2 linked regions of the Homo sapiens genome follow. The protein of the gene in region 2 purifies or fractionates together with the protein of the main gene of each other region. This does not show direct contact. Each region holds a gene or a part of one and is shown on either strand. Other genes may lie near its edges.

Evidence for each region. The genes of interacting proteins can lie anywhere in the genome.
Region 1: the proteins of RNF19B (region 2) and USP15 purify together in Homo sapiens (affinity purification with mass spectrometry; 2 studies listed by BioGRID and IntAct, with this or other methods). This does not show direct contact.

What each region holds. Positions count from the first base shown.
Region 1 is NC_000012.12:62,413,493-62,416,889, reverse strand, and holds the end of USP15 (ubiquitin carboxyl-terminal hydrolase 15), read right to left. Parts: 3' UTR 501-3,397; downstream 1-500. UniProt on the Homo sapiens protein: Hydrolase that removes conjugated ubiquitin from target proteins and regulates various pathways such as the TGF-beta receptor signaling, NF-kappa-B and RNF41/NRDP1-PRKN pathways.
Region 2 is NC_000001.11:32,947,662-32,951,315, forward strand, and holds part of RNF19B (E3 ubiquitin-protein ligase RNF19B), read right to left. Parts: coding exon of another isoform or gene 3,633-3,654; exon of another isoform or gene 3,547-3,632; intron 2,114-3,546; coding exon 1,908-2,113; intron 706-1,907; coding exon of another isoform or gene 703-705; coding exon 561-702; intron 1-560. Other genes in the region: metallothionein-1E-like, read right to left, coding at 3,633-3,654.

The DNA.
Region 1 (3,397 bases), on a different chromosome or scaffold from region 2:
GTCTAAGGTGTAATATAGATTTTTGAGGTGACAAAGAACCCAAATCAAGAGTACATTCCTTGTCTTTGGACAACTGTATTGAACAGATAAATGTTTGGGGTATCCCCAACTCAAAAAAGTATTCCTGGCCTTGTGTAGTCAAAGTATTATTTTTGTGGAGATGCCAGAAGCTCCAAGTTGTGAAAAGCGTCTGAACAAATGGGAATTCAGGATGCCCTCCAACTGGAGCAAGAGATAGCAACTGTATCTTCCTTACTGGAAAAAAGAATTCCTTACAATTAAAACTTCTTTAGAAAAATATAAATGAAATATAAATTTTCTACATTTAATCTTGAATATTCCAAATTCATAAATACCGAACTTAAAATGTTAGTATATCTAAAATGTACGTTTTTAGTGCACATTCATAAGGTAAATTACTTTTAAAGCTGTTAAAATATGTAGCCAGCAACATGTCAGGAATACAACACAATCACAATAAACACAATAAAGCTTCAGACTTTCAGAAAACTTGTTTAATAACTTTTACATTTAGGAACAAATACTATGCCACACATACACCATCTTAACATCTTAAGAACAATATTCTTCCATCAGGTAATTGTCTAGTGGGGGAAGAGACACACGTAACTTATAGCCCAAGGTGGCAGTTGATGTCAGAAGATCTAGCAAGTGCATTTTGGAGCAAGTCTTGAAGGAGTGTAGGAGTTCGCCAGGTAAGAGATAAGGCAGACCATGCAAATGTGGGACAAATGTGGGAAAGCCCCATTGTCAAGTAGTATGACATGTTTGAGGGCAAGTGAGGAATTAGATGAGGGCAAATTCTTACTTTTTTTCCTTCAAGCACCAGGTTAACAGGCAACCTGGGTGGACTGACTGTACCATACTCTTTGCTCTCTTGCTAAAGAAAGTTTATTAGAACTTGAGTATGAATCGTATTGAACAGAGAGCTGCTCTCATTCATAAGGAAGGAACAATCATTCCCATAGTTGGGTACTTCTTTATTAGTAATAATACCTGCCACATTTTTCATAATGATCAAGACACAAAACCTTGCAATTATTCTGAAAGGTAGGTAATATTCAATTACAGTGGTAGGAGTGGATGGCTTAAGTGAATGGGGATTTGGTTTCCTTATAAATATTAATAGCCCTCCATCACAAGCAAACTGTATATTCTGAGAAAAGTCATAGGTTTGCTAAGCAAATATGCAGTTTTAAGTCACATTGTTCCCTTCTAATCAGGTTGCTCACCCCAAGCCTTCCTAGATGGACATTCGGGAGCTGCTCTAGTTTACAGAGAGGTGAAAGGCAGAGAGGTGAGGTGAGTTGCACAAAAGTGGTAGGCTCAGAGGTGGTTTAACTCCTGAGCCTATGGTCCAAACCACTCTTTTCTACATGAAGGGATGTGATGGTTTATTTAATGTGTTGACTGGGCCACAGGGTGCCCAGATATGTGGTCAAACATTATTCTGGGCATATCTATGAGGGTGTTTTTGGATGAGATTAACATTTAAGTCAGTAGACTGAGTAAGGCAGATTGCCCTCTCTAATGTTGGTGGCTCTCATGAATTGAAGGCCTGAATAGAACAAAAAAGGCTCAAGTAAGGATAATTTCTCTTGCCTGATTGAACTGGGACATCAGTCTTTTCCTGCCTTTGCACTAAAACTGAAACATTCAGTCTTCCTGGGTCTTTAGCCAGGTAGCTTGTGGACTGGAACTTTTATCATTGGTTTTCCTGGTTCTCAACCCTTTGGACTCGGACTTGAACTACACCATTGGCATTCCTGGGTCTCCAGCCTGCTGACTGAAGATCATGAGACTTCTCAGCCTAAGTGCATGAACTAATTCCTTATAAATCTTTCTCTCCCTCATATATATATATATATATGTACATATATGATATATATGTATATACATGATATGTGTATATATGAGGGAGAGAGCTATACATATATGTGTATACACATATGCATCCTATTGGTCTTGTTTCTCTGGAGAATCCTGATTAATACAAGGAATTAGAAGAGAACTTTAAGACAGAAACAGGATCTCATTTTTTTTTTTTTTAAATGAAACCATGAAGATCATTCTGGTAGCAGGATAATGGACTGAAGTAGGAAGGGACTGCCAGCCAGATGTAATCCTATTGAGTGCACCCTGAATACACACTTCTATTTTTAAAAATGGGATGCTACATTATAGGCTGCCAAAGACATGTAGTTATTTAGTACTGGTTAAATGAAAATACATGGCCAGGTGCTGTGGTTCATGCCTGTAATCCCAGCACTTTGGGAGGCCGAGGTGGATGGATCGCCTGAGTTCAAGACTTCAAAACCAGCCTGGGTAACATGGTGAAACCTGGTCTCTACAAAAATTAGCCAGGTGTGGTGTGGTGGCACATGCCTGTAGACCCAGCTACTTCGGAGGCTGAGGTGGGAGGACCACTTGAGCCCAGAGGCTGGAGGCTGCAGTGAGATGAGATTGTGCCACTGCACTCCAGCCTGGGTGACAGAGAAAGACCTTGTCTCAAAACAAAACAAAACAAAAACCAGGCATACCTTGTTTTATTCTGCTTCACTTTATTATCATGCTTTGAAGATAATTGTTTTTGTTTTTTTACAAACAAGGCTTGTGGCAAGCCTACATTGAGCACATCTATAGGTGTTATTTTCCTAACAGAATGTGCTTACTGTGTGTGTGTCATATCTTGGTACTTCTCACATTTCAAATGTCTTCATTATTATTGTATCTGTTACGGTGATCTGTGATCAGTAATCTTTGATGTTACTGTTTTGTTTGAGGGCACAGACGTGTGTGTTCCAACTGCTCCACTGGCCATTCCCCATCTCTCTCCCTCTCCATGTGCCTCCCTATTCCCTGAGACATAACACTATTAAAACCAGGCCAGTTAATAACCATCCAATGGCCTCTAAATGTTCAGGTGAAGAGCTGTACATCTCTCTCTCTCTCTCAATCAAATGCTATAAATGATTGGAGCTTAGTGAGGAAAGCATGTTGAAAGCCAAGGCAAGCTGAAAGCTAGGCCTCTTGAGCCAAACAGCCAAGTTGTATATCCAAAGGAAGAGTTCCTGAAATTAAAAGTGCTACTCAAGTGAACACATGAATCATAAGAAAAGTGGTATAGAGAAAGCCTGAGTTTTTTTTTTTTTAATAGATCAAATCAGCCACAACACTATCTTAAGCCAAAGCCTAACGCAGAGCAAGGCCCTCTCTCTTCAATTCTATGGAGGCTAAGGTAAGGAAGCTGCAGAAGAAAAGTCTGAAGCTAGCAGTGGTTGATTCATGGAGTTTAAGGAAACAAGCTGTCTCCACAACAGACAAGCATAAGGTGAAGCAGCAACTGCTAAAGTAGAAACTACAGCAAGTTATCCAG
Region 2 (3,654 bases):
AAAAAAAAAAAAAAGAATTCACTTAATGAATTCCTTGGGAACTCACTAAATGCAAAAAACTGTAAAAAGGTCACAACTCTAGCCTCAAGATACTTACAGTTTAGTAAGATAAGATAGGTACGTGAAGTGTAAAGTACTGACGATATTTATGACAAAAGATAAAAGAAAGTCAAAGAATGAGGCGGAAAAAGGAGAGGCAACATGGATGAAAGGCATTTAAGTGGCTCTTAAAAGATAAGAACTGAACAAGTTGAGATAAAAGGAGGATACTGGAAGGTAGGCAGAAAGCATTCTAGGCAAAGGAAAGAACATGAACAAGTATGGAGGCAAGACAGCAAAAGGGAAAAAGCAAGTCCAGACTACCTGTAATATGGCAAGCAAAGAAAGGTAGAAACAGAATAGTAGCTGGTGAAAACATGATTAGAGGAGCATGTCAGAAGAAGTTTTCACAGCTTCCTTAAACCTGTAATGAGAGAACGGATGTGTCTTTTTGACATCCTTTTCCCTAAATCAGTAAGAGAATGAGACTACGAAAGGAATGGATGCATTTCCCATCTTACCTGAGGTAATGCAAGTCTGAGATCTCTTTCATACAAAGCCAACAGAATTCACAGCCACACACTGCACAGGTCATGTGATTACAGCTTCCATCATTCATCTTGATAATGTATGCACTGCATCGTGGGCATGGCTTGATGTCATCTGCTATGAGTGGGGGAAGAATGGGTAGAAAAAATACCCCTAGTTAAATCCAGTTTGATTTAATTGTTCCTAGGAGTATATATAAGAAATGAGGCAGCAGTCAAGAACTCTTCACTGAACACTCCAAATTGTACAACCCACTTTACTGGAAGGTTGGCTATGTCTAGACCTCAGGAATTTTCATAAAATGAATCCTGTCTCTTATTGAGCTGCCTATCCCAACAACTGGCATCTTACACAGCACTTGAACCACATTCTAGCAAGGAGATTTCCTTAGGGAGAAAGATGTTTCCAAGAAAAATGAAATTTCTACCAGTCGATAGGCTGGTAGATTTAAAAGAAGAATCCTACAGAAAGAATAGCCTGCAGCCTGGAATTAGCTTTACATTTTTAAAAACTTTAGTTTGGGAAATTTATTTTTCAGGTTCAACATGTATCATTGTGATTTGCTGTTAACATAGCCCACAATCCCTTCCCATGATACTTTCAAATTCAAAACCTAAAAACAACTGGGTATGCTATCTACCATATACTTGGTAATTTTCAGAGCAAGTTATGAACTATCCTAATAAAATGACAATTTAGGAAATTATGCTGTGCCAGGAAAAAGTGAATGGCAAAATCTTTCCTACTAGCCTCTCCCAAATGACATCAGCAAAATAAAAGTACAAAGCAATAAATCCACTGACATTTTAAAATAGGTTTCCTCTGACTCGCCAAGGTTGGAGCTGAATGTGTGACATTCCTCCTTTTAAGGTTAATCATTAATCTATACTAATACTGTTTCCTTTTCTTCAATCTGTACTCTACTTCCAAAGGCAGTGAGGCACTTAAGTCAGCTTGAAGGCAAACAGCACAGGTTTAATACTAATTAAATGTCTTTCTGTTCACAATGAAAGTTTTGAAAAAGCCCCTAGCAAAACAAAATGAACTAATTGCTCTCCAATCTGAGACATATTACTAAGAAAGTAGGAACTACATAATTCAATTTTGTTGCATTTCAATTTTATATAGTTGGATAACCTATAATGGTCAGAGAGGGAAGTGCTATCTTTATTATAATATTGAAAGTATTATCAAATGATATTTTCTGCTCTCTGATCCTTTGGAGTACTTGGGTTATACAATAAGATAATTTCTTTCAGCTATGGGCTCACATCATGAAATACCAAATAAAGAGACAATGAGATAATGCCAACTTATACCTGGTCCAGATTCTTGCCCATAACTGAGACCTGAAGTGTGTTTGGTCCGAACTCGTAAAGTCTGGGCCCTCTGTTGACGGGCCATATCGCATGTCTGATTTGGATGCCATATCTGCTTGCAGTGGTAGCAGAACTCAGTCTGGCAACCTTCCCTCTCACAAGTTAGCTTCGGGCAGCTGGCACAGCCATAGGCAATAACAGCATAACTAGGTAAGGAAACAGTAAGAGATACCAGTAAGGTAAGAATGATCTAACCAAAAGAGACATTATTCATCAGAGTTAACAATGTTTGGCACTACCCCACTATCACATATGATACAGAGAAAAGAATACACATACACACATATACACACACAAGCACATTTGACCAACTGTAAAATATATCCCATGTGAGAAAGTAAACTTTTTTTTTTTGAGACAGTCTTGCTCTGTCACCCAGGCTGGATTGTGGAGTGCAGTGGTGTAATCTCGGCTTACTACAACCTCCACCTCCCAGGTTCAAGCAATTCTCCTGCCACAGACTCCCTAGTAGCTGGGATTACAGGTGCAAGCCACCACGCCTGGCTAATTTTTTTTGTATTTTTAGTAGAGATGGGGTTTCACCATGTTGGCCAGGCTGGTCTCAAACTCCTGACCTCAGGTGATCCACCCGCCTCGGCCTCCCAAAGTGCTGGGATTACAGGCGTGAGCCACCATGCCTGGCTATAAATTTCTTGAGATTCCAAAAACACAAATCATTTATTTACTTTAAAAAGTGGAGGTGGAGTATCTTATTTATCCTGGATTTCCAGCATTTATTCAATCATAGCTGAAGCTGCTTTAGGAGTAGTTTGTCATAATAAGTTTCATAAATAACAGGGTACAAAACTATTTCCTTTTGATAGTTTGCTATATTTAGAGAGATTAGTATTTGTTTATACGAAGGAAGAGGACATTAGTGAAATAAAGAGCTATGGCAAAAACTAAAGTTTATTTTTTAATTCCTTCTTTTTTTTTTTTGAGATGGGGTCTCACTGTCACCCAGGGTGGAATGCAGTGGCTCACTGCAACCTCCGCATACCAGGCTCAAGCAATCCTCTTGCCTCAGCCTCTAGAGTAGCTGGGACTACAGGTGCGCACCACCACACTTGGCTAATTTTTGTAATTTGCATAGAGATGGGGTTTCGCCCCATTGCCCAGGCTGGTCGCAAACTTCCGGGCTCAATCAATCAGCCTGCCTCAGCCTCCCAAAGTGCTGGAATTACAGGCATGAGCCACCATGCTACCTTTTCATTCTTTTTTTTTTTTTTTTGAGATGGAGTCTCGCTCTGTCGCCAGGCTGGAGTGCAGTGGCGCGACTCGGCTCACTGCAACCTCCGCCTCCCGGGTTCAAGCGATTCTCCTGCCTCAGCCTCCTTAGTAGCTGGGACTATAGGCATGCATCACCATGCGCAGCTAATTTTTGTATTTTTGTAGAGATAGGGTTTCACCATGTTGGCCAGGATGGTCTCGATCTCTTGACCTTATGATCCGCCCTCCTCGGCCTCCCAAAGTGCTGGGATTACAGGCGTGAGCCACTGCACTCAGCCTTTTTCATTTTTTTTCTTCAAGTAAAAATTGTTTTATTGTCATTAACATATTTAATATAAAAAGAAATGAAGCAAATGGCTCAGTGTTGTATTTTTTAAAAAATCCAGGTTTGTGCAGGTTACTCTATTTACATCTGGGAGCAGAGCTGTCCCCACGTCAGGCATAGCAGTTGCACTTC